Linked DNA regions of Homo sapiens. The protein of the gene in region 1 purifies or fractionates together with the protein of each later gene. This does not show direct contact. Each region holds a gene or a part of one and is shown in the gene's direction. Other genes may lie near its edges.

The links.
Region 2: the proteins of PLPBP (region 1) and GSR fractionate together in Homo sapiens (co-fractionation; one large-scale study listed by BioGRID). This does not show direct contact.
Region 3: the proteins of PLPBP (region 1) and TRA2B purify together in Homo sapiens (affinity purification with mass spectrometry, with the first as the bait; one large-scale study listed by BioGRID). This does not show direct contact.
Region 4: the proteins of PLPBP (region 1) and MYEF2 fractionate together in Homo sapiens (co-fractionation; one large-scale study listed by BioGRID). This does not show direct contact.
Region 5: the proteins of PLPBP (region 1) and KIAA1191 purify together in Homo sapiens (co-immunoprecipitation; one large-scale study listed by IntAct). This does not show direct contact.
Region 6: the proteins of PLPBP (region 1) and RAVER1 fractionate together in Homo sapiens (co-fractionation; one large-scale study listed by BioGRID). This does not show direct contact.
Region 7: the proteins of PLPBP (region 1) and HK1 fractionate together in Homo sapiens (co-fractionation; one large-scale study listed by BioGRID). This does not show direct contact.

What each region holds. Positions count from the first base shown.
Region 1 is NC_000008.11:37,761,160-37,765,459, forward strand, and holds the start of PLPBP (pyridoxal phosphate homeostasis protein), read left to right. Parts: upstream 1-1,500; coding exon 1,501-1,599; exon of another isoform or gene 1,600-1,654; intron 1,655-1,767; exon of another isoform or gene 1,768-2,105; intron 2,106-4,300. UniProt on the Homo sapiens protein: Pyridoxal 5'-phosphate (PLP)-binding protein, which may be involved in intracellular homeostatic regulation of pyridoxal 5'-phosphate (PLP), the active form of vitamin B6.
Region 2 is NC_000008.11:30,725,047-30,729,323, reverse strand, and holds the start of GSR (glutathione reductase, mitochondrial isoform 1 precursor), read left to right. Parts: upstream 1-1,477; 5' UTR 1,478-1,488; coding exon 1,489-1,794; intron 1,795-2,302; exon of another isoform or gene 2,303-2,431; intron 2,432-4,277. UniProt on the Homo sapiens protein: Catalyzes the reduction of glutathione disulfide (GSSG) to reduced glutathione (GSH). Constitutes the major mechanism to maintain a high GSH:GSSG ratio in the cytosol.
Region 3 is NC_000003.12:185,914,058-185,917,536, reverse strand, and holds the end of TRA2B (transformer-2 protein homolog beta), read left to right. Parts: 3' UTR 1-2,979; downstream 2,980-3,479. UniProt on the Homo sapiens protein: Sequence-specific RNA-binding protein which participates in the control of pre-mRNA splicing. Can either activate or suppress exon inclusion. Acts additively with RBMX to promote exon 7 inclusion of the survival motor neuron SMN2.
Region 4 is NC_000015.10:48,154,296-48,157,795, reverse strand, and holds part of MYEF2 (myelin expression factor 2), read left to right. Parts: coding exon of another isoform or gene 1-16; exon of another isoform or gene 17-669; intron 670-3,500. UniProt on the Homo sapiens protein: Transcriptional repressor of the myelin basic protein gene (MBP). Binds to the proximal MB1 element 5'-TTGTCC-3' of the MBP promoter. Its binding to MB1 and function are inhibited by PURA.
Region 5 is NC_000005.10:176,355,265-176,358,764, reverse strand, and holds part of KIAA1191 (putative monooxygenase p33MONOX), read left to right. Parts: intron 1-3,015; coding exon 3,016-3,194; intron 3,195-3,344; exon of another isoform or gene 3,345-3,500. UniProt on the Homo sapiens protein: Potential NADPH-dependent oxidoreductase. May be involved in the regulation of neuronal survival, differentiation and axonal outgrowth.
Region 6 is NC_000019.10:10,327,030-10,330,529, reverse strand, and holds part of RAVER1 (ribonucleoprotein PTB-binding 1), read left to right. Parts: intron 1-3; coding exon 4-70; intron 71-1,418; coding exon 1,419-1,888; intron 1,889-3,500. UniProt on the Homo sapiens protein: Cooperates with PTBP1 to modulate regulated alternative splicing events. Promotes exon skipping. Cooperates with PTBP1 to modulate switching between mutually exclusive exons during maturation of the TPM1 pre-mRNA.
Region 7 is NC_000010.11:69,321,847-69,325,346, forward strand, and holds part of HK1 (hexokinase-1), read left to right. Parts: intron 1-3,500. UniProt on the Homo sapiens protein: Catalyzes the phosphorylation of various hexoses, such as D-glucose, D-glucosamine, D-fructose, D-mannose and 2-deoxy-D-glucose, to hexose 6-phosphate (D-glucose 6-phosphate, D-glucosamine 6-phosphate, D-fructose 6-phosphate, D-mannose 6-phosphate and 2-deoxy-D-glucose 6-phosphate, respectively).

The sequences.
Region 1 (4,300 bases):
AAAGCTCTAATAAACCCCATCACCTCAAGACAAGACCACCTGAAGAACAAACATTAGCCATTTCTCTAATATAATAGCATCCCACTTCATTAAGTTGAATTAATGTTTGAGAAACTTTCAACAGAAATTGCAGCCAAGAGTGCTTTCCTTAACAAAATTGATCTCCTTCTCCTTGCCCGTAGCACCTACTATTTCACCACCTGACTATGTAGCATTCTGTATTATTATTTGTATGGCCTGGCTCCTCATCAAGTTTATAACCATATTGCCCACAGAAGGGGACTCAAGAATCAAACTCAGGGCGTTGTGGTGCCCGTTTGTAGTCCCAGCTATTCTGTGAGGCGGAGGTGGGAGGATTGCTTGGGCCCACGAGTCCCAGATAATCTGGGCAACATAGCGAGACCCCATCTCAAAAAAAGAATCTAACTGAATGTGCTGAGCTCCTGCTAGACCATCTAAAGCTGCCTGTGGGCTGGGCGCGGTGGCTCGCACCTGTAGTCCCAGCTACTGGGGAGGCTGAGGCAGGAGAATCGCTTGAACCCGGGAGGTGGAGGTTGCAGTGAGCCCAGATCGGGCCACCGCACTCCAGCCTGGGTGACAGAGCGAGACTGTCTCAATAATAATAATAGTAATAATCATGCTGCCTGTGTCCCCTGATGAGACAGCACTGGCCGCAGGTGGCCGCTAACCTCTCGAAATAGGGATGGCCCGAATTGAGACATATGCAAGTCAACACTACACCGGGTTTCAGAAACACATACGATTTTCAAAAGAATTAAAATATCGCATTTAGTTTTTCTATTGATTGCATGTTGAAATCTTACTTTGGATATATTGGATTAAATAAAGTATATCATTAAAATTTTTAAGCTTATGTGCCTATGAGAAACTTCCAAATTACACAGTTGGATGGCGTTATATTTCTCTTGGACAGCAGTGGTCTGAAAGATGACAAAAATCACGATACGTTTGAATCACGCCATGTCTTTAGGGAAAAGAAGAAAGAAGAGTTTCCTTTCGTATCGCTTAGGGGTTCCTCGCAAGAACCATCTGACAGAGAAAAGCCCTGGCTCCCGCCCCAGTGGCTTCTAATTCTGGTCCCCGCGCCCAGAAAGCCGGGAACGGGCAAGCCTGGAAAGGCGTTTTGAAAGGAAACAGGATCCCCCGAGTATAGGATGCGTTTCTGCCTCACAAAAGTCCCTTGGGGGTGGGGGGACGGCAGCGGCTGAGGCGCAGGAAAGAGGAGAGCACACGGGGAGTGGCCCTTGGAACCAGGCGCGCAAAACCTCAGCCCCTAGGCTCCATTTCCAGGTTCGCGGGTGACCTCCCCAAGATGGCCGCCGCCTGGGGGCGGGCCTCCACGCTGCACGGGTGTTGATTGGGTGAGACGACTCAATGATGAGCAATGATTGGTTCACACGGCGCAAGCTGGGCGGAACCGGAAGATGGTGTGAGCCACGGGCTGCCGGGGGCCTGGGGCTCGGCGTCGGTCCCCGGGGGATGTGGAGAGCTGGCAGCATGTCGGCCGAGCTGGGAGTCGGGTGCGCATTGCGGGCGGTGAACGAGCGCGTGCAGCAGGCTGTGGCGCGGCGGCCGCGGGTGAGGAAGGAGGCTGCGTGGGGACGGTGGGCGGCCGCCTTGAGAAGAGGGACACCTGCGTGGGAATGGGTCGTCACGGTGACGCAGAGGGGTCTCCCAGAGAGGCGGGACTGGTCGGCCGCCTAGGGCCACCGAAAGGCTAGCGAAGGGTTTCCCCAGCCTCCTTACCTTGAGTCTGTTAGGTTTTCTGGAGATTGGCTTCGTTGGAGCAGAGGGTACCGCTACCTCGGGAAAATGACTTAGTGCCTAGGTGTCGTGGCCACTTGCGCACCGCGTCGTTTCGGGGTCGATAGCCTTGGCGGATGCGAGGGGGGCCAGGCCTGTGCCCACGGATGGTAAGGGGAGACGGGGGTACAAGAGCACCCCGCGGAGGCCAGAGACGCCCGAGATCGCGTGTGTGGCAGCGTCTCACCTGCTAAGTGCCCAAGAAATGCCAGTGCCGCCCGGAGGCCGAGGTGAGGGTGGACTGGCCGGACTTCGCTGGCATCAGAGCGGCACTTGTTTATGGGGCAGGAGGGAGAAGTCCAATCCCAAGCCGGTTAAGGGGAGCTTTCGTCTTTTGTGTATATATATATTACATCCTCTTGGACTTTGATTAGACCAAGAATCAAAATCTGCCCACCTCAGTGCAAGTTTAAGCTGAATGGTGTGGAATGAGACGGACCTTAACAGAGAGGTCACAGGTTTCTCTGATCGAGCATTTATGCTGGCTGAAGACAAGACCTGTATTATAGTCTTTCTTTGACTATTCCTTAGACGTTACCTTGAACAAGTCAGGTAACTATTCCGGCCCTCAGCTCTGAAAGCTCTGAGATCTCTTCTGATGTTAATATTCTGTGATTCTCGGTGATTCTCCAAGAAAAATCTAGGGCTTCCCCTAATAAACATCACCTTGGAGGTTCTCTCAGGGAAACTCTCAGGCAGATGGGCTGCCTGTTCGGGTAACTCTCTGGAAAGCGTCAATCATCAGCATACTCCCAGTAGTCACGACTTGGACTCAAACGAGGCTGGTTACGCATCGCTGTGGAAGGAAGGAAGAGGAGACATTTTTCTAATTGATCTGACTCCGTCACGTCCTTGAGAACACTGTGATTCTGTGAAAACTTCAGGGGATGATGGATACAAGAAGACTAAATCGTGCAAGGATAAACGAATCTCTTCTCTTACTGTTTCTATGTGGATTGGGTGGCAGCAGAACGCATAGAACCCCCGCTCTTTGTATAGTGGTCGTGAGAGGATGTCACATAGGTCTGATCCTGAATCCAGAATTTTTTGTGTCGCAGCCTTAGTTCTGCCACTGGTTCTTTTCTTTCTTTTTTTTTTTTTTTTTGTTGTGTTGTTTTGTTTTGTTTTGTTTTGTTTGAGACAGAGTCTCGTTCTGTCGCCCAGGCTGGAGTGCAGTGGCACGATCTTGGCTCACCGCAACCTCCACCTCCCGGGTTCACGCAATTCTCCTGCCTCAGCCTCCTGAGTAGCTGGGATTACAGGCACACACCACCACACCTGGCTAATTTTTTGTGTATTTTTAGTAGAGACAGGGTTTCATTATGTTGGCCAGACTGTTGTTTTTTGTTTTATTTTGAGACGGAGTCTCACTCTGTCACCCAGGCTGGAGTGCAATGGCACAGCCTCAGCTCACTGCAACCTCCACCTCCCGGATTCAAGCAATTCTCCTGCCTTAGCTTCCCAAGTAGCTCGGATTACAGATGCCCACCACCACACCTGGCTAAGTTTTAGTATTTTAATAGAGATGGGGTTTCACCTTTTGGCCAGGCTGGTCTCGAACTCGTAACTTCAGGTGATCCACCCACCTCGGCCTCCCACAGTGCAGGGATTACAGGCGTGTGGCTCACCTGGCCATGCCACTGGTTCTTAATTCACAGATTGAACAATCAATTACTTAGTTACCTAAGTGGGCCACTTTTAGAGTAAATGGGGCAGTGTTATTATGGTGTAATGATACACCAGGACTAGAATGAGTCGCCAAACTGCTAACGTTTGGGTTTCAGAAGCCAGAAGTGACCTCTCTTTTACTTAGAGTGCAGCCTTCTATTAATGAAGTGATTCTTAAGCCTCCAACATTAGTATGTCTTAGAGTCATCTGGAGAGATTGTTAAAAAGGAAATTCTCCGCTGGGCACAGTGGCTCATGCCTGTAATCCCAGCACTTTGGGAGGCCGAAGTGGGCAGATCACCTGAGGTCGGGAGTTCAAGGCCAGCCTGACCAACATGGGGAAACCCTGTCTCTACTAAAAATACAGAATTAGTCAGGCATGGTGATGCATGCCTGTAATCCCAGCTACTCAGGAGGCTGAGGCAGGAGAATTGCTTGATCACTTGAACCCAGGAGGCAGAGGTTGCGGTGAGCCGAGATGGCACCATTGCACTCCAGCCTGGGCAACAAGAGTGAAACTCTGTCTCAAAAAAAAAGGAAATTCTCACCCAGGTGATGCCGATGCAGTTGGTCAAAGACCACACTTACAGGAAATACTGCTTTAACTTGCCCGGCTCTCCTGAGAGAGACATTTCTTCTGCTGAATATTGACATCGCTAACATTGATGCATAGATTGAGATGCCATGCGCCTAAAAAACATTTGATCATGATCACCACTATTTGATATTGATCTGCCTACAGTGTTGAAAAAATGGATCTTACCTAATGCCAAGTTGAGATCAATGCCTGTCTATCCTACAGGATCTA
Region 2 (4,277 bases), 7.0 Mb from region 1:
CAAGTGCCTGTTCCTTCCCGGTGTTCAGCCACTGCGTTGATACTCCACGGGGGCCTGCCACGCACTGCTCTGACTAGGCGTTCCACCGGGGCAATTGCCTACCCAGGAGCGCTCGCAGGATCCGCGTCGCTCAAGCTGGCGGGAGTTCCCCGCAGGGATGCTCCACAGGGCAGGCCTAAGCCCCCTAAGGGGCTGCCTCGACTGTCCGTCAATTACCTCGCTTCCCAGTCAGGGAACCAAGAAATATAGCAGGATGAGTCACAGACAAAACTCCTCAGACACCAGATTAAAGCAGGAAGAGGTTTTTTATTCGGCCAGGAGCGTTGGCAGACTCGCGTCTTGAGAGCCGAGCTCTCCGAAAAAGAAATTCCTAGCCCTTTTAAGGGCTTACAACTCTAAGGGGTCTACGTGAAAAAATCATAATAGATCAAGTAAGCGTGGGAAACGTGACTGGGGGCTATATACATCAGCTAACAGAACAAAAAGTTTTACAGTGCTTTCTCATACAATGTCTGGAATTTACAGATAACACCAATAGTTTTGGTCAGGGGTTAATAATATTATTATTATCTTAGCCACCAGGGCCAGGTGGTGGTGCCAAGGTCGTCTAGCTATTTATCTTACTTCTGTTTCTTTCCAACTTTTTGCTTTCTCCCTTTTCTCCTGTCTTATAAACTAGGGAAAAGGGGAGGTTGGGGAGAAACTGAGAAGGACAACAGGAGAAGTGGTGACCTCATACCATAATCCTAGCATTTTGGGAGGCCGAGGTGAGAGAATCGCTTGAGGCCAAGAGTTCCCTACCAGTCCTGGTAACATAGTGAGACCCTATTTCTAAAAAAAAAATAAAAATAATAAAAAAAATAAAAAAAAAAATTAAATAAATAAATAAATAAATTAGCTGGGCGCTGTGGCGGGCACCTGTAGTTCCCAGCTACCGGGAAGGCTGAGGAGGGAGGATCGCTGCTTGAGCACAGTAGGTGGAGGCTGCAGTGAGCAGAGATCGCATCACTGCACCCCTGCCTGGGGGAGAGTGAGACCCAGTCTCAAAGAAAAAGCAAGAACAAACAAAAGTGGTCTCTGGAACAAACCTGGACAAACAACCCTTCGAATAGAGGCAAATTTCTCTTCCTGGAGAAGCCGTGCCACTGGCAACTCCCCAGGGGGCCAGCTCGGGAAAAGCCAGCTGAAACGAGAGGACGTTCACCGTTCCTCGCCTCGATCCACCGGACTTCAGAAGGCTACACGCGGCAGGCGCCGCTCGGGATCCAGGGGCCGGGGTGAGAACGGAGGCGGAGAAACCCCTCAGGCTCCGCCACCGGGGCGGGGAACTGGGAGGCGGCCCCGCCTCTGGGCATCCTCCTGGGTCTTGCCTAGCGGCGGGCGCATGCTTAGTCACCGTGAGGCTGCGCTTGCCCGGGGCCCGCGCCCCCCTACCCCGGGGACCGCCCCCGGGCCGCCCGCCCCACTTGGCGCGCCACTTCCGCGTGCATGGCCCTGCTGCCCCGAGCCCTGAGCGCCGGCGCGGGACCGAGCTGGCGGCGGGCGGCGCGCGCCTTCCGAGGCTTCCTGCTGCTTCTGCCCGAGCCCGCGGCCCTCACGCGCGCCCTCTCCCGTGCCATGGCCTGCAGGCAGGAGCCGCAGCCGCAGGGCCCGCCGCCCGCTGCTGGCGCCGTGGCCTCCTATGACTACCTGGTGATCGGGGGCGGCTCGGGCGGGCTGGCCAGCGCGCGCAGGGCGGCCGAGCTGGGTGCCAGGGCCGCCGTGGTGGAGAGCCACAAGCTGGGTGGCACTTGCGTGAGTACCGCCGGTTTGTTCGGGCGGGGGGCGCCTCTTTGTCTCGGTCTTTCGGGGGACAGCCTGTGCTCGTTCCTATGGCGATCCTGTCCCCCGGCGCTGGGCTTTCCTCTTTTCCACCCCCGCAACTCCCCATTCCGAAGCCAGGAACCCAGCAGGTGGAGGAGAGAGAGGCGTCCGGGGGCTTCTCTGCGGCCCGCAAAGCCGAGCCAGCGTCTGCTTCCGCACGGATGCGATATTGACCAGGGCCGGGGCGGGTTAGATTAACCTTCCTCCATCCTCACTTGTCCAAGTGGGAGAGGATTGGATTCTGTTCTTGACCGCGTGAAACACAAAACTGCATCTGGGAACATTGCTGGTGGCCTGTGTGTAGGGACGAGGGTGACGGTGCCATAGATCCTGGTTCTTGAAAAATGTAGATCCTGGTTCTCCCGTTTCAAGGGCAGAATGATTTATAGCGGTTGTTGTCAACCTTGGCTACACATTCGAATCACCTGAGGGTGCCTGGATTCCCGACTTAATTGGTCTGAGGTGCACTTGGGCTTTGGGATGTTTCCCGACTTAATTGGTCTGAAGTGCAGCCTGGGCTTTGGGATTTTCGGGTGATCTGAATTGCAGCCAAGGCGACCTTGAGTAGGTGAGTTCTCAGAGCTTTTGTTTTGTCTTGGTTTTATGTGGATTGCAAAACTAAAAACAGAGGGATGTAAATCCTGAGATTTACAAAATTCATAATTTTTGAAAATAAGGGTTTTTGTTTGTGTTTGTTTTTTGAGACAGGGTCTTGCCCTGTCACCTAGGCTAGAGTGCAGTGGCCATCATAGCTCACTGCAGCCTCGAACTCCCGGGCTCAAGGGATCCTCTCACCTTGGCCTCCTGAGTAGCTGGAACTACAGGGGGCTAATCACCACGCCTAGTTAATTATTATTATTTTTTGTAGAGATGGGGGTCTCGCTATGTTGCCCTTGCTGATTTCAACCTCTTGGACTCAACCGATCTTCCCGCCTCAGCCTCCCAAAGTGCTGGGATTACAAGCCTGAGCCACTGCACTCATTCTAAAAATAAATGTTGTTTCCAAGTTATTGGTGTGCCCGCCCTTTTCTATCACAAGATTTGGGTGTTGACGATTAAAATGCTGTATCCAAGAGGAACCTGGGATTTGGGATAGGTTCTCTAAATTCCTTTGGAGATGAATATTTAAATTATGTCAAATTGGGAGCTCTTTAAGGACAGGGATGGGCTTCTGTGTTTGTGTGTCTCTTATCACCTTAAAATCCCTTGCTCAATAAGCACTTGTGCAATGAATGAAACTAAAAATGGACAGTTATGAAAAGGTTGACTTCATTGTTCAGTGCCTTGGAGATGAACATGGAGATGAAGAGAAAGGAAAAATCTCTGTTAATTATCAACTTGCACTTTGACACCATAGTCCAGACAGAAGGTTAGAAATCTGTCTCTCCAGAAGGCAGATTGTGGGGTGCCACTAAGTGCCCCCCTCCCACACCTCATGAGAGTACTTGATCACTTCTCACTTCTGTTCTGCTCTCCACATTTTCTCTGTCTTCCTCTTTCTCTACTTATGTTATAATGTGCTTCAGAGGTTCACCCACTTTACCTTCCTGTTATGAATTCTTTTTTTTTTTTTTTTTTTGAGAGGGAGTCTCACTCTGTCACCCAGGCTGGAGTACAGTGGTGCAATCTGGGCTCACTGCAACCTCTGCCTCCCAGGTTCAAGCAGTTCTCCCGTCTCAGCCTCTCGAGTAGCTGGGAATGCAGGTGCATGCCACCATGCCCGGCTAGTTTTTGTACTTTTAATAGAGATGGGGTTTTGCCATGTTGGCCAGGCTGGTCTCAAACTCCTGACCTCTGGTAATCCACCCACCTTGGCCTCCCAAAGTGCTTGGATTACAAGCATGAGCCACCACACCCAGCTAATTTTTTATTTTTAAAATGTATTTATCTATTTTTTTTTCGATATGGAGTCTTGCTCTGTCACCCAGGCTGGAGTGCAGTGGTGCAATCTCGGCTCACTGCAACCTCCGCCTCCTGGGTTCAAGCAACTCTCCTGCCTCGGCCTCCCAAATTGCTGAGATTACAGGTGCCACTACACCCAGCTAACTTTTGTATTTTTAGTAGAGCCAGGCTGGTCTTGAACTCCTGACCTTGTGATCCGCTCACCTCAGCCTCCCAAAGTGCTGGGATTACAGGCGTGAGCCACCACGCCTGGCCTGTTTTTATTTTATTTATTGTTTTTTAGAAACAGGGTTTTGCCATGTTGCCCAAACTGGTCTCTTATGCCTGTGCTTAAGCAGTCGGCCTGCCTTGGCCTCCCAAAATGCTGGGATTACAGGCATCAGCCACCACTCCTGTCCCATTTTTTGTATTTTAAGTGCTGGGATTGGGGGTGGGTAGGGAGAAAACGATAGATATAAACATTTGTGAGACATGTCCCTTCCCTTAAGGAATTTTGTGGTTGTGAAAGAAAA
Region 3 (3,479 bases), on another chromosome or scaffold:
TTTGGTGCTTTGTTCCAAGTTAAGTGTTTTCAGAAAAGTATGTTTTGCATGTATTTTTTTACAGTCTAAATTTTGACTGCTGAGAAGTTTCTATTGTACAAAACTTCATTTAAAAGGTTTTTCTACTGAATCCAGGGTATTCTGAAGATCGAAGCCTGTGTAAAATGCTACCAAATGGCAAAAAGCAACAATAAACAGTTTGATTTTTACTTTTCTTTCTAACATATCAATGCTTAGCAGAACTATTCAGATTGTCAGTAGTAAATTTAAAGACAAATGCCCGTTTTCCTCCAGTCCATGAAACATACCATACTTATATACCTGCAACTAAGTGTTTAAAATTATGCTCTGTAACTCTGTACTGCTAGTATTAGAACTAAAAATCTTAAAATACAGCCAGTGCTTAATGCTTATATCAATGTGGATTTGTCGGCTTTTATGTAATCTGTAATATGTATAGCAGGAAATACGAAGAGTTACACAGTGTATGCCTTAAAAGGCTGTTTCTTAAAGGTGTTACAAGGGGATAATGGTATTTCAACTAGTTATCAGCAAGTGACAATACATTCCACCACAAATACACTCTTGTTCTTCTAGCTTTTAGACTATATGAAAAAACCGGGTGCTTCAAAGTACATGATAAGGGAACACTATACCTGTCATGGATGAACTGAAGACTTTGCCTGTTCATTTTTTAAATATTATTTTCAGGTCCTTTGCTTACCAAAGGAGGCCCAATTTCACTCAAATGTTTTGAGAACTGTGTTTAAATAAACGCAAATGAAAAGAAAAATGTTGGTGCAGCTGTTCACAAAGAAGTGTTCTTGTTCTATTATAATTAGAGTTCTTCTGTAGTTTAATCGTTAGGGCAGTGTGTTCCTTGGGCTGAGGTGTATCTTTGCTATTTTGGGCTGGGTTGAGGGGGGGATGAATTTCTGTATTCCTGGAAAATTCAGAGTGCATAACTAGGTATTAGAGTGATCTCCATTTGGGGATGGAGTTACAGTAAATAACTAGACTGCGGGTACTTTAATACATGTTCTTATTATTTTGCATTTAAGTAATTTTCATGACCAATTGTAGGGATGTTGCTACAGGTGGGTTATTTTGTTGCCTTGCTAACCTTTATCGCATCTAGGTATTAGTATGTTTCAGGTACTTTGGGAAGAACTTTACATATAATCTTTAGCAATGAAATGATGTAGAGTAACTTACCTTAGTTCAAATAGCTGTTTAAGTGGCAATGCCACGATCTGAATTGAACCTAGGTGATCTTAGTCCACAGTTCTCTTGATCATGATGTCTCAAATCTGGGTACCTGGGTGATGGAAAATACCAGTAATGGAGCATAGGCAGTATTGGCAGGTCTTAATTTGTAAAACTTACTGTCCAGGGTGTTTTCAGTGTTTGCCAACTTGTGGTAAATTAATATGCTTAGAGAACTACCCTTAGGTTTGTTTCTGATAAGCATGTGGAAACAACTTAGTATATGCCTGATGGGTTATTTCAAATTGTTCTCAATGAGTTTTGAAACAAGAATTTGTAGTATTTATATATAAAGTTGAGTTTTAGGGTGTGGTCCCAGAGGGGGTTGTGTTATGGATGGATACATTAAAGGCTGAGAAACCTGGTTTTATCGTGGTAGTATATACAGGCATCCTTTCCTGAAGTAACTACATTCTCCACCATTTTCTCCCCAACCAAACCTCTCCCCATCAGTTAACTGATGGCTTGCGAGTTCACACTCCTGATAATCTCGAACATAACCCTCGGTTTCTATCCTAAAGCCTGAGTTTTAGCCCTTTAGTTGTGTAGCCATCCTTTATCCTGCTGATTGAAAGTTTCCTTTTTTAGGCTAGTTTGAGTTGTTTTCTGGCTTTTAGATTTGAAAGAATTTTAGCCATTTGACATGGCTACAAAGAGTGTTAACAGGCAAAAGACTGAGGAAAATTTGGAATTTTACCAAGTTGAGATAGACTGAGAAGTAGTGAGACAAAGTGGTAGTCTTTTGATGTGCTGTAATGCTAGTCGCCAGTTTCATGAAAGGGAGGCAGCAGTTACCCGTAGGTAACCCCTAGGTAACTGCTGCCATGGGCAGCTGAATCAGACAAAAGCCATGGGAAAGGATAAATTTGAGTCTTAAAGTTACTGCCTCAAGGCAAAGGGACTTGGAGGCTTTTATATGCCAATACAAACAATCCATTTCTTATAGCTGTAGGGCTGAGACTACTAAAACCAAATGTAAAGTTCATTTGGAAGATTGCTAAGTTAAATAGTTTTATACTAGGCTTTTGTGAAACTTCTCAGGAAATCAACAGGGTCCCAGCAAGTGGAAATAAGGCTGTGTCAAAAGATTTGTAGACCTGGGAGCAGGGGTTTCCGATCTCCTGGCCATGGATTGCCTGAGCTCCGCCGCCTGTCAGATCAGCAACAGCAGATTTTCATAGCAGGAATCCTATTGTGAAGTGCGCTTGAGAGGGATCTAGCTTGCACATTTCCTTATGGAAATCTAACTACATGTTAGAGAATGCTCAAGGTCTGCAATGTTTACATTGTTGCCCCTACATAAGGAATATATGCCTTAAGATAAAACTAATAGCTCTTAGCCCTCTTACACCATTGACTAGGATTCCAATTCTGCAAGGCCCAGGAGGAGAAATTGAGAATTAGAAGTTTCACCGAGAAGAAATAAAAAGATTTGGTTTGCATTATCAAAATTTCTGTAAATTATATGGAAATTTTGAGGATGGATTAGGCTGGATTTATTAGCAGTGGACACGCCTCCAATATTCCTTCAGCATGCCATCTCAGTGGATTTTGATTGGCTCTTGTAGGATTGGACTTAATGCTAGCTTATGCCAAATGTCATCAAAAAGCCAGAATGCTACTACAGTAATGTAAAGGATTATTGTATATAGTGTAAAGGATTATTATGTGTAATCTTTAATATATAATGTAAAGACTTAAAAGTGACAAGAATACTGGATTGGTTCTATTCCACTCACTCTGTCCCTTACTAGCAAGACAAGACCCAAAATAATCCCTTCTCCCCATGAGTAATCAGTTGATGAAGTTAAAACTATTTCAAGAGCTTTACTGGCCTGGCAAGAGGAGATGAATTGAAATGGGATCCCACGTTAGTACTAAGAGACCAGTTAATCACTGTTTTTTGGTGGGGGGGGGGGTTCGTTGGTGTGTGTGTGTGTGTGTGTGTGTGTGTGGTTTTTTGAGACAGTTTCACTCCTGTTGCCCAGGTTGGAGTACAGTGGCACGATCTCAGCTCACTGCATCCTCCACTTCCCAGGTTCAAGCGGTTCTCCTGCCTCGGCCTCCCAAGTAGCTGAGATTACAGACGTGCACCACCACGCCCGGCTAATTTTTGTATTTTTAGTAGAGACAGGGTTTGACCGTGTTGGTCAGGCTGGTCTCGAACTACTGACCTCGGGTGATTCACCCACCTCGGCCTCCCAAAGTGCTGA
Region 4 (3,500 bases), on another chromosome or scaffold:
TGGTAACTTTTCCTGACTAATCAGCAATACATTCTAAAATGTTTGGTAAATTTATACACTTGAAGGAAAAAAAGTCCTCTGTAATTTCACCATCTGTGGGTAACCTCATTATAACATTTTTGTGTATTTTCTTCTAGCCTGCTATGTATATTTTTTACATAGTTGGGAACAAAAATAATTTTGAATTATTTTTTGTTTAACATTAGAGTATAAGCATTTTTTCATGTTGAAGATTCTTTTCAAATATTTTTATTGGTAGTATAATAGTCTATCATATAGATGTTCCATAACTATTTCACTGTTCTGTATTTTAGGTGTTTTAACTTTTCTTTTGAGTAACCACAGAGTAACACATGCCTTTTTGTTCACAAATCTTTGTAATGTTTTTGAGTACTTCCTTCAGACAGATATTCTGAAGTAGATTTACAGTTCTCATGGGTTAGTATTATCAAATTGTTTTCCAAAATGACTATAACAGTGTAATATACTTATTGTATTATGTGTCTCAGTGCCTCTGTGTCTCAGTGCCTCCTTTGAAAAGTGGGGAGAATAATATTGTCTACGTCATGGGGTTGACATGAGTATTACATGAATTAATATATGTAAAGCACTTAGAATCATTTTGGCATAATGTAAACACTCAATAAATATTAGCTATTGTTTTTACTATTTCACTGCATCTTCTCTGGTTTTTAAAGTATTCTTATAAGAAATCTTAAATATACAGACAAAAGTAAAATTACTCATATAGTTATCATATGCCATATTTGTTGTAGATTTTTTTCTTTAAAATAAATAAAATTTTATGGTAAAATGGAGCTTCCCCATCTCCCTTGCCCATCTTTCAACTTATGCCTTATCCAGAGGAAACAACTTATGGATAGAGTATTTATCATTTAGGTTTTAATAATTTGACTACACATTTGTACATCCATAAACATAGGGAATTGTTTTGTTGGATTTAAAATTTTGTTTGAGTGATATCATAATGTATTATGTAACTTGCTTTTTTTTTTAAATTGTTTTTGAGATTCATTTATGTTGATAGATGTAGCTCTAGTTTCTTCATTTTAACTGCTGATACCACATTTTATACATTTTTCTGTTTTTTAGGTTATTTTAATTTTTAGTTATTGTGTATTAAGTTGGAAAGTATTTGCTATTTTTTATCAGAATTATATGTTCTCTTTATATTTGCTAGAAATTATGTGTAAAACTGGCCTTCCTCTGTTGTTTCTGGGAAGTTTTTAACTACTGATGGTTTATATTTTCTGTCTTTTTTTTTTGAGTCAATTTTTGTAATTTCTATTTTTCTAAGGATTTTTTCTGTTTTTGTTCATTTTCAAATATTTTGGCTTAAATTATCTCTTAAGTTTTTGCTACATCTATGTTTCTGTTTTAAAAATTCTGAATGCAATTTTTATTTTTTTCTTGGTTAATTTTGTTAGAAATTTGTCGGTTTTAATAGAGTATTCAAATAACTGAATTTGGATGTTTTGTATTTCTAATTTCTGCACTTAGCCTTATTATTTTTTCCTTCTATTTATTGGGGTTTAGTGTGTTTTTGTCCTAACTCCTTAAGTTGAATGCTTACTTCAAATTGGTAGCTTTTCCTTTCTAATATAAGCATTTATGACTATAAAGTTAGTACATGGGTTTTGCTATGGAGCATTTTTATGATGGGTCAGTTTTTAGAGTATTTAAAAATTACCATTATGGGCCGGGCATGGTGGCTAACACCTGTAATCCCAGCACTTTGGGAGGCCCAGGCAGGTGGATCACTTGAGGTCAGGAGTTCGAGATCAGCCTGGTCAACATGGTGAAACCCCGTCTCTACTAAAAATACAAAAAAAAGTAGCCAGGCATGGTGGCGCATGCCTGTAGTCCCAGTTACTCAGGAGACTAGGGCAGGAGAATTGCTTGAACCTGGGAGGCAGAGGTTGCAGTGAGCTGAGATCGTGCCCCTGCACTCCAGCCTGGGTGACAGAGGGAGACTCTGTCTCAAAAAAAAAAAAAAAAAATTACCATTATGATTTCTTATTGAGCCATGTATTATTTGAAAATGGAAGTTTTCAATTTCCAAATGTATGAGTTTTTTTTTTTTTCCTTTGTACTTTTTCATTTTAATGTGGTCAGAGAACATGGTTTATATGTGAGTGTGATTCTTTGGAATTCATTTGGACTTATGGATGGCCTACCATATGGCACATTTTTCTTAAGTATTCTGGGTACAGTTGGTGAGTGCAGTGATCTATATGTGTTCATTAAATCAAGTTTGCTAATCATTTAAATTGTCTTAGATCCAATACTTTTTCTGCTGTAACACTGTTTATCTTATTATCTTATGTGTCTGGTAAAATTGCCCAATAGAATAGTGGATTTGTCTACTTTTTCTTGTTTTTACTTAAATATTTTTAAGCTAGCTTAGTAGGTGCATCTAGATTAGAATTGATATATTTTCCTAGTGAATTAAAAATTTTATTGGGTGATTTTTTTTCTCTAGTAGTTACTTTGAGTCTTTGGTCTCATTTTAATGTAAGTACAGCAGCTTTATTTTGTTTAGTACTTGCCTGGTACATTTTTCCTATTTTTTTACTGTTTCAGGCATGCCCCTTATAAAGGGTGTTATTGCTGGGCTTAGACTTTTTAAAAAAATCACTTTGATAGTTTTTTTCACCATGAAATTGAAGAGTTCAATTTCTTCACATGTATTGGTTCATTTGGATTAATTTCCATTATATTGTGTCTTATTTTTTTGTCTTACAAATACTTATTTTACTCCTATCTTGGATTCTTCTGGATATTTTAATATTTCTGTGAAGCCTGAAGTTAATATAATTATTCTTTTATGTAATAGTAGAGTGACCTTTGGATACAGTCACTTTCCTACTGAATTATACTATCATTGCTCAGCATTTTAGTTCTGTATTATTAGTTCTGTACTATTTTTTTTTCTGTCCTGCAAATTAGACAATGTTATTTACCATTTTCTTGTGTCATCACTCCTCTGCTTTTATAGACTCTGGCACTAATTTTTTTCCCCTGAAGCATATATGTTAGAAGCTCTTTTAAGTGAGGATCTTTTATTAGTAAATTCTCTCAATTTTGGGTTTTAAATGTTTTCAAAGATAGTTTAACTTGTATAAAGATTGATAATTATTTTCTCTAAGCACTTTGAAAGTATTCTACAGTCTTCATGTTTACACTGTTGCTATTAAGTCAGCTATTTGTTGAATCGTCCTTTCTTTATAAGTAATCTGTCCTTCCTGTGCAGTTTGTGCAGTTTGACAGCAAAGACCAAAGTCTTAAAATCAGCTACATGTCATTATGCAAGCAACCTAAGGTCTCAAAAATTTCCTCTTCTATGGACAATAGATGTGGAAACACTTAAGGTGCCATATAAATATAAATAAATATTTATATCAATGAGAAAACTAGGTAATATAATATTTGCCTTATTCAGTGTTATACTTTCATGGTTATTGACTTTTTAGTTTGAT
Region 5 (3,500 bases), on another chromosome or scaffold:
AAAGTGTTGGGATTACAGGTGTGAGCCACCACGCCCAGCCAGTTTTATTTTATTTTTGAGTCTCACTCTGCTGCCCAGGCTAGAATACAGTGGTGTGATCTCAGCTCACTGCAACCTCCGCCTCCTGGGCTCAAGTGATTCTCCTGCCTCAGCCTCGAGTAGCTGGGATTACAGCTGCCTGCCACCACGCCCGGCTAATTTTTGTATTTTTAATAGAGACAGGGTTTCTCCATGTTGGCCAGGCTGGTCTCAAACTCCTGACCTCAGGTGATCCTTCCACCTTGGCCTCCCAAAGTGCTGGGATTACAGGTGTGAGCCACCACGCCTAGCCTTAGATTGGCATCATTTAAATATTTTATTAGCCGCTCAGCCATAGTATGAAACTTTAACTTAAAGAGAATAGTCACTTCATTTAAGGGTATTATGACAAGTTTGTTACTTTCCTAGTTATCAAATAATAATTCAGAATAAGTTGTGCAGTTCTTGTAGTATGTACCAAAGTGATTAAACTCACCTTTTTGGGGGTGATGGGGAGGTGGGATGGAAGTCTTGGTAAAAAGGCACCAGCCTGCTTAAATGGCAGATTGAACTTAATCATGAAAATGCTCACAGCAACCCTTAATGAGTCAAGTTCTGGGTTATTGACACCATTGATGACTACTTGAATTGTTTTATGAGAAAGGAAAGTGATTTTTAATTACATCTGAATCGCTTAATTTCTGATTCTCGGTAAAGTATGATGATGAAGAAAGATGATGGTTCCTATCTCTCGGGGTTGTGAAGATTAAACAAAATATGTAAAAACAGGAGTTAAAAATCAGTGATAAATATGTATTTACTGCCCAGAATGCATTTGGTCTGTCTTTATATGAACATATTTTCCAGTAAATACTAGCTGACTTTATTTGTTTTAGGATGGCTGTTCAGTGGGAGTCTTTAAGATGTTTTTGAAATTGCTCCCCAAGTCTCCCGTATTCCCCAATATAGATCCATCTCTAGTCTTAACATCATCAGCTCCGTTTTAGTTTGTCTTTCATTGTTGCTGTGATTACCACAAACTCCGTGTAGCCGTCGCGAGCCATAGGATTGTGCCCATTCAGTGAATGCTTTGTAGTGTGTTGCATGCAGAGTGTGTGCACCGGCTCAGGTCTGTGTTCCAGTTCCCAGCACACTCTTTCAAGCTAGGTGATATTGGGCAAGTTGATTGTGAAAATGGAAAATTTGAAAATGGGAAGAATATCTGCTTCATGAGGATTAGATAAGATGAGGGATGTAATTGTCTAGCAAGGAGGAAGACTTAGTAATTATTATTTGCTTGTGTGTGTGTTTGAGATGTAATGCACATATCATAAAATTCACCCACTGAAAGTGAACAATGTCGTGATTTTTAGTATATTCACAGGGTTGTGCAAACAACACTACGATCAATTGCAGCACATTTTCTTTTCTTTTCTTTTTTTTTTTGAGATGGAATCTCGCTCTGTTGCCTAGGTTGGAATGCAGTGGCACGATCTTGGCTCTCTGCAACCTCCGCCTCCTGGGTTCAAGCAATTCTCCTGCCTCAGTCTCCCAAGTAGCTGGGACTACAGGCACGTACCACCACGCCTGGCTAATTTTTGTATTTTGAGTAGAGATGGGATTTCACCATGTTGGCTAGGCCGGAACGCCTGACCTCAGGTGATCCACCCACATCAGCCTCCCAAAGTGCTGGGATTACAGGTGTGAGCCACCACACCCATCCAAACTGCAGTACGTTTTCATAACCTCCAAAGGAAAACCTCGTACCATTAGCAGTCGTATCCTCACTCCCCCCACCCACTCCCTGGCAACCTCTAATCCTCTTTTTATTTCTATGGTTTTGTTAATTATTACTAATAGCAATAGTAATAATAATGATAGCTGCTTGGTCCCCTTGCCGTTTAAATGAAACCTTTTGTGGTTTTGGACTTATTGCCAGGCAGGTTGATGTCTTAGAGAGTGTTATTATATGATTTTAGCCACAGGAAAATGTTACCTTTCAGGTAGGTTCTGGACATTAGTTCTGATATGCAAGGATTAGCAAACGAAACACAATGAACTTGGCTCCCTGGTCTGGCACAGCTGAGAGTGCCCTTGAATGGGGTGGCTGCATCACAACCCGACATGCTGGGCGTCAGTTCCAGTGGACAGGAATGGCAGGATCAGCTGGTGATTTGTGAGAGTGGTTGTCAATAATTTCTGTGATGGAAAGTGACTCTACTGTTTAAATAAATCATACAGAACAGTGATGCCACAAACATTTCTGTTAGTGCTGGTGTTTTCTTTGGTGAGGAAAGGAAGGTAGAGGATTCACAGACCTTGGCTGAGCCCCAGGTAGCCATTTTCTGAATGAACTTGGGAAGGTCACTTTACCCCTAGGCCTTAGTTTCCTCATCTATGAAATGGGAATGAGAACTTCGTATCCTCGGTCATTTCATATCCTCAGTCTTGCACGAACTGAGAGCCTTAGTATTGCAGTAGGGGGTGGCTTCTGTGGGATAAAGGACACAGCTTTGAAATCAGATAGGTTTGGTTGGGATTGGATTCCAAACTGTACTTTGAAGTTGTGGTCAAGTACCTTTAAATGGAACTTCAGGTTTCCTGATCCATGAAAATTAGCTGGACATGGTGGCACATGCCTAGAATCCCAACTACTCGCTAGGCTGAGGCACTTGAGCCCAGGAGGTTGAGCCTGCAGTGAGCCGTGATCGTGCCGCTGCACTCCAGCCTGGGCAACATAGACTGTGTCTCTAAACAAATAATAAAAAAAAAGGATTAGGACGGCTGAGTGGGTTAAGTGGACCACCCAAGGTGTCAGGCATAGAGGAAGGGATTGGTACCACTGCCTTTCCTGGATGGGATTAGCTACTCCAAAACAAGCTATTTTGCTCTGTTCAAGAACAAGAGTATTTCAGAGCTTTCCTTCCTGTAGATTAATTTAAAGCTGCTAGTATGTCCAGTTGCTGAACCTGTCTTGACAGGTGTCTCTGTTCTTAGCTCTTGAGGCTAGTGCGCCTCTAGGCAAGATGTCCCTGCCCATCGGGATATACCGCCGGGCAGTCAGCTATGATGATACCCTCGAGGACCCTGCGCCCATGACTCCTCCTCCATCGGACATGGGCAGCGTCCCTTGGAAGCCAGTGATTCCAGAGCGCAAGTATCAGCACCTCGCCAAGGTATCTGACCCTGCTGGCCATTTCTGGCATACGCAACCCCTTTGTCCTTCCTCTGCTCCAGAAGCCTTCAGTGGCTCCCTGTGCCCATGGGACTGGGCAGCAACCACTCCCTGTATGTGTTTTCTGTGCCTCAGTTATAGCTGTCTTTTTTTTTTTTTTAAGATTTTATTTATTTTGTTAAAAAAAAAATCAGTAGCTTTAGGGTTACCCGAGGTGTTGTTCGCATGGATGAATTGTATAGTGGTGAAGTCTGGGCTTTTAGTGCACCCGTCACCCGAATAGTGTACAGTGTACCCAATAGATGGT
Region 6 (3,500 bases), on another chromosome or scaffold:
CAGGAAGTACATGACCTGCTCAGTGACTATGAGCTCAAATACTGTTTTGTGGACAAATACAAAGGGACAGGTTTGTGGGGCCATGGGGCGGGCCAGGGCAGGGAGTGACCATCCCTGAAGATGGGAGGGCCTGGCTCACTGTCTGCTGCTCTGAGCTTCAGGCCCAGTATTGCCCCCCAGGCCAACATGGCAGGTTGCCCCAATCTGCCTGTCATCCTGTCATCTTGGGACAGCCTTCATGTTCTCCTTGGAGAACACTGGGCATCGGGCTGATTCTCTTCCTACTCCACTCGCTTGGCATTGAGCTAATTCTTGACAACGTTTGGCCGTGGGTTCATTCTCTTCTTACCCCTCTTGCCTCACTCAGCCAGTCACCCCTGCTTGTGTGGTCTTTTTTTTTTTTTTTTTGAGATGGAGTCTTGCTCTGTCGCCAGGCTGGAGTGCAGTGGCGCGAGCTCGGCTCGCTGCAACCTCCGCCTCCTGGGTTCAGCCCATTCCCCTGCTTCAGCCTCCCGAGTAGCTGGGATTACAGGCATGTGCCACCATGCCCGGCTAATTTTTGTATTTTTAGTAGAGACAGGGTTTCTACCTGGGTGGGTCCAGGTTAACCAGGTGAGGAGGTGGGGCTCAGTGTTCCATGCTCAAGAAACAGCAGCTGCAAAGGCCCCTCTGGAGTGTGCCTGGCGTGGTCCGGGTGGCAGCGGTGAGATGGGAGGGGAGGTCAGCGAGCCCGCACAGGCTGCACTGCACCCTGCAGCTAGAAGCCACAAGATGGATGTGGCGTGATCGTTTTGAACAAAGCTTCCTGCGGCCGCTGGGTGGATCGCAAATCTGGGGCAGCACGTGGCAGCAGGGTTCAGGGGCACTGGTGGCCTGGAAAGGTGGCAGGGGTGGGCAGTGTGTAGAGTGGGCCTCTGGAGTCCGGCTGCCTGGGTTCAAGTCCAGGCTCCCCTACTCGGGGCACAGGGGTGCTGCTCTGGGCCCGTTTCCTCTCTGGCAAAATGGTGATTGTGATGATTAAGTTATATCCATTTGAGAGATGAGGAAACTGATACCCCCAAAGCCACCTGGGGCTTGGGGCTTAAATCTGGGCCCCAGTGAGCATGGGCTTAACCACTGCCCTTGGTATCACCCGAGTGACCCACAGCGTTCTTAGGACAGAGCCAGGCCCACAGTTGGTGAGCGCTGCTGTGGGTGCAGGTGGACGCAGGGCTGGGAGAGGGAGTGGGCTTCGTGGAGCCTAGAGTCAATGGCAGGCGCTCTCGCCTGTGTGAGTCGCCAAGGCTGGCAACTGCTCAGATCAGCAGGCACCTGAGATGCCCAGCATTTGGAGGTCCCACCTGGTTTGCAGGGTGGCGGGGTGGAGGGGCAGGCCCTCAGGGCCCGGCTGACCTCGCACTGCCCTCCTCCCACCGCAGCCTTCGTGACCCTGCTGAATGGGGAGCAGGCCGAGGCCGCAATCAATGCTTTCCACCAGAGCCGCCTGCGGGAGCGTGAACTGTCGGTGCAGCTGCAGCCCACGGATGCCCTGCTGTGTGTGGCCAACCTGCCCCCCAGCCTCACACAGCAGCAGTTCGAGGAGCTGGTGCGGCCCTTCGGCAGCCTGGAGCGCTGCTTCCTGGTCTACAGTGAGCGCACTGGCCAATCCAAGGGCTATGGCTTTGCTGAGTACATGAAGAAGGACTCGGCTGCCCGTGCCAAGTCGGACCTGCTGGGCAAGCCGCTGGGACCACGCACCCTCTACGTGCACTGGACGGATGCCGGGCAACTGACGCCTGCCCTTCTCCACTCCCGCTGCCTCTGTGTGGACCGCCTGCCACCTGGCTTCAACGATGTGGACGCTCTGTGCCGGGCGCTGTCAGCTGTCCACAGCCCCACCTTCTGCCAGGTGAGCCCTGTGGAGAGCATTGGGGAGCAGGTGCCAGGCCCGGAGCACCTGAGAGAGTCTTTGGAGTCATCTGCCTTTTCTTTTTTTTTTTTGAGACAGTCTCACTTTGTCACCCATGCTGGAGTGCAGTGATACAATCTCAGTTCACTGCAACCTCCGCCTCTTTGGTTCAAGCAATTCTCTTGCCTTAACCTCCAGAGTAGCTGGGATTATAGGCGCCCCGCCCCCATGCCTGGATAATTTTTATATTTTTAGTAGAGATGGGGTTTTGCCATGTTGGCCAGGATAGTCTTGAACTCCTGGCCTCAGGTGATCCTCCCAAAGTGCTGGGATTACATGCGTGAGCCACCACACCTGGCCAGGGGATTTGAATCCCTCTGCAGCCTCAGGCCTCACTGTCCCTCTATCAGATGCATGCAAGGCCACTCTTGTAACTATGGATCTCGAGGCTTGCTCACCACTCACCTCCTCATTCGCTGGTACCCTCGTCAAACCTCCCATGGGGTCCCAGACCTGGACCAGGCATTGAGGAGGCTGCAGAGGAGCCCACAGTCTATTTGAGCCTTGAGGTCAGAGACTGAGGCTTTGCCAGATCCCAGCCCCGCCCTCGAGCTCGGGCCAGTCACTGGCTCTCTGATCTGCAGTTTCCCTCCTCCATAAGCAGGGACTCAATACTTGCACAATGGGTTGGCAAAACAGTCCCTTGTTCATTCAAGCCACACATGCCAGGCACTTCTGTGTGTGTGCCTCGCCCTGTAACAGGTGCAGTGGGGCGAGAACAGGCCAGACTCACTCTCTAAGAGCCCCCAGAAGGTCTTGATCCCCAGAGATCCCAAAGGGGACATTCCCCCAGCACTCGCTGTGGACTCTGAGTACGTAACCTTCAGTTGCTTCATCCTGTAGCAACCCTGAGAGGCAGGTATCACTCCCATTTTCAGGTGAGGATACCAAGGCACAGAGGGGTCAAGTAACTTGCCTAGAGTTAAACAGCCAGGGTCTGGCAGAGCTGGGATCAGAACACCGCAGCCTAGCTCCAGAGCTTGGGCCAGTGAGCGGAGGCCAGTGCAGAGGCTTAAAAGGGGTAGGCCTGGCCAGGTGCAGTGACTCACACCTGTAACCCTAACACTTTGGGAGGCTGAGGCGGGCGGATCCCTCGAGCCCAGGAGTTCGAGACCAGCCTGGGCAATATGGTGAAATCCTCTCTATACAAAAATTAGATAGGTATGATGGTGTGCCTGTAGTCCCAGCTACTCAGGAGGCTGAGGTGGGAGGATTGCCTGATTCTGGGAGTCCGAGGCTGCAGTGAGCCATGATCGCACCACAGCACCATGACACTACAGCCTGAGCAACAGAGCTAGACCCTTATCTCAAAAACAGAGAGACAGTCCTGGGCTCGGACCCCCAGCTCTGTGGGCTTGAGTGGGTCCCTCTCGTGTAAGTGGGGTATTGGTGCCCCATTTAAACTAGGTGTCTGTTGGGAGGCAGAGGCAGGAGGATCACTCGAGACCAGGAGTTCAAGACTAGCCTGGGCAAGATAGTGGGACACCATCTCTATATTTAAAACAAGAAACAGGCTGGGTGAGGTGGCTCATGCATGTAATCCCAGCACTTT
Region 7 (3,500 bases), on another chromosome or scaffold:
AGAGGGTGTACTGGCATTAGGCTGAGCTAAGCACAAAACACATATATTCCTTTCACTCTTCTAGTGCCTGTAGGAGGAAAGGGAGGCATATGTGTGCTTGTGAAGGATTCCATTCATCAGAATCCCAGACATCTGCCAGTTCTGCAGCTAGAGGCTGGGTTCTTTGACCTCTAAGTAACTTTAAACACGCATCTCATCTCGCCAGCTTCTTCCACTCGGTTTAGCCATTAGGAGCTTGGAGCAGGGTGAAGGATTGCATAGTGCTCTGTTTGTTTAGAAAGGGAAGATGGGTCCAGGAAGGTCAGAACTTGGCTTCTAAAGAAAGATTAGACTTCCTTTCCTCCAGGCTTGTCAGAATGGTGAGCAAATGCCAGTGGATTTTCTCTGGGCGAGATCCCCATAACGCTAAGTGATTTCCACTAGTAGGTGATCATGAAAAGGGTGTCATTTCTTTCCTCATTGCCTTGAGGCACATCAATAATTCAACTCCATAAAAATATATCCTGGGTTGAAACAGTTCAGGTGTCTGACTTCCCAGTTTGGAACCCCATTATCCAGACGGCATCTGCATAAATTGGTTAATGGGTGCTGTTGAAGAGAGTGTGATTTGTCCAATGGCCGAACTCAGGAGTCCTTGAGTACTTGACCCAGGAAGACAGGGGAGAGTAGGCTTAGCAATTAAAGGGTTGCCCAAGGTACATTCCTTAGAGCCTATGTGTTCCAGCTGCAAAAGCAAGCATTAAAAATAAATAAATAAATAAAAGGCCGATGTAGTGGCTCACACCTGTAATCTCAGCACTTTGGGAGGCTGAGGCGGGTGGATCACCTGAGGTCGGGAGTTCGAGACCAGCCTGACCAACATGGAGAAACCCCGTCTCTACTAAAAATACAAAATTAGCTGGGTGTGGTGGCGCATGCCTGTAATCCCAGCTACTTGGGAGGCTGAGGCCGGAGAATCACTTGAACCTGGAAGGCAGAGGTTGCGGTGAGCCGAGATCACGCCATTGCACTCCAGCCTAGGCAACGAGAGCGAAACTCCGTCTCAAAAAAAAAAAAAAATGCCCATTCATTATTGCTCAGGGGTGAGAGAGGTGATAGTTAGAAAATTGTGAAAAATCTGGCTGGGCACAGTGGCTCATGCCTGTAATCCCAGCACTTTGGGAGGCTGAGGCAGGTGAATCACGAAGTCAGGAGTTCAAGACCAGCCTGACCAATATGGTGAAATCCCGTCTCTACTAAAAATACAAAAATTAGCTGGACGTGGTAGCATGCACCTGAAGTCCCAGCTACTCGGGAGGCTGAGGCAGGAGAATTGCTTGAACCGGGGAGGCGGAGGTTGCATGAGCCAGGATCATGCCACTGCACTCCAGCCTGGGCAACAGAGCGAAACTCTGTCTCAAAAAAAAAAAAAAGAAAATTATGAAAAATCTGTGGGTTCTTGCAGTGGCAAAGAAAAAAAAGAAAAAATTATGAAAAGTCAGCCTGGGCAACAAAATTAAACCTCATCTTAAAAAAAAATTTTTTTTAGCCTGCTTTGGTGGCATGCACACACCTGTAGTCACAGCTACTCAGGAGGCTCATTGAGCCCAAAAGATTGATCCCAAAACAGTGAGCTGTGATGCTATGATTGTGTTACCGTACTCCAGGCTGGATGATAGAGCGAGACTCTGTCTCAAAAAAAAAAAAAAAAAAAGAAGAAAGAAAATTATGAGAAGTGTCTCATAACCTCTCAATTCTGATGTTGTACAAATATTCAGTGAGAGCTTCTTGGTGAATCTTGACTTTATAATCCCTGCCTTTCCTACCTTAGATACTCCTAGGGTTTCTCCCAAGAGAAGCCCCATCACTTTATCTGGTTGGATAGTTTGGGAATGTCATGAAGGAATAAACTGGCAGGCAGGGTGTCTGTGAGGTGCTTTCACATCTGGCCAAGCTGTGCCATGCTCCCACGCTCCTACTGTTCTCCGGAGAAGACATAGGCAGCTTTCCCCTTACAAGACTGATTTGGCATGACTGGGACTGTCTGTGTGTGTCTGCAGTCAGGGATTCCTGGCAGACAGATTTAGCCACTGGAATCACCTCTGAGCATGCCTGAGAAGGTCCAGGGAAGACATGGATAAAGACAGGGAGCTGTATACCTCTGCATCCAGGAATCAGTTGTGGTCAGACTGCTGGCACCTGCTTATGGATTTGTTTTTATTTTTTTATAGAGACAGGGTCTCACCATATTGCCCAGGCTGGTCTTGAACTCCTGGGCTCAGGCAGTCCTCCCGCCTTGGCCTCCCTAAGTATGCTTATTGATTTGAAAACCCTGAAGATCAAATCTGATCACAGGAGCTCAATCATTTCTTTAAAAAATGTTTGATTTTTTTATTATGTGCAGAGGACTGTGCTAGGCTGGGGTGACAACTATAAACAAGGCAGAAACGGTCCCAGTTCTCATGGAGCATAAAATATTTGCTGGCCGGGCGTGGTGGCTCATGCCTATAATCCCAGCACTTTGGGAGGCCAAGGCAGGCTGATCATTTGAGGTCAGGAGGTCGAGACCAGCCTGACCAACATGGTGAAACCCCGTCTCTACTAAAAATACAAAAAAGGTGCCAGATGTGGTGGCTCATGCCTGTAGTCCCAGCTTCTCGGGAGGCTGAGGCAGAAGAATCACTTGAACCTGGGAGGCGGAGGTTGCAGTGAGCTGACACTCCAGTCTGGGTGACAGAACGAGACTCCATCTAAACAAAAATAATAATTAAAAAAAAATGAAGTATTTGCTGTGTTATATGTGCAAAGCATATGGGCTATGAGGGCCCACAGCATGGTGTGGTCATACCTTGGGTGGGAAATCCCTAGGCTAGGAACTGCTTACAGCTAGGCTGCAGATGTTAGCTCCTTAAGTGCTTCAGGAAGCTGCTCCCATCCCCAGTTCTGGGGATGTGTTAGTCTGTTTGGAGTAGCAGGACAGGTGCCCACTGCCTTCTGGCCTAATAAACCTTAACAACGGGATCTTTTGCAACCACTTAATATACACTGGGTTGTGTTCATTGTATTTGATCTTAAAGAAAAATAGGTAAAAATTTTACAGTTTGATTGGTCTTGATTTCTGGAAATAACATTGACTTCTGGTAAACAGTACACATCAGGGATATTATACTTAGAAACTTTGTAAGGTGGAGTCAAAATTAATTGTCACAAAAATGTGTATTTTTTTTTTTTTTTTTTTTTTTTGAGATGGAGTCTTCGCTCTGTTGCCCAGGCTGGAGTGCAGTGGCACGATCTCAGCTCACTGCAAGCTCCGCCTCCTGGGTTCTCGCCATTCTCCTGCCTCAGCCTCCTGAGTAGCTGGGACTACAGGCGCCTGCCACCACTCCCGTCTAATTTTTTGTATTTTTAGGAGAGACGGGGTTTCACTGTATTAGCCAGGATGGTCTCGATCTCCTGATCTTGTGATCCGCCTGCCTCGACCTCCCAAAGTGCTGGGATTACAGGTGTGAGCCACCACACCC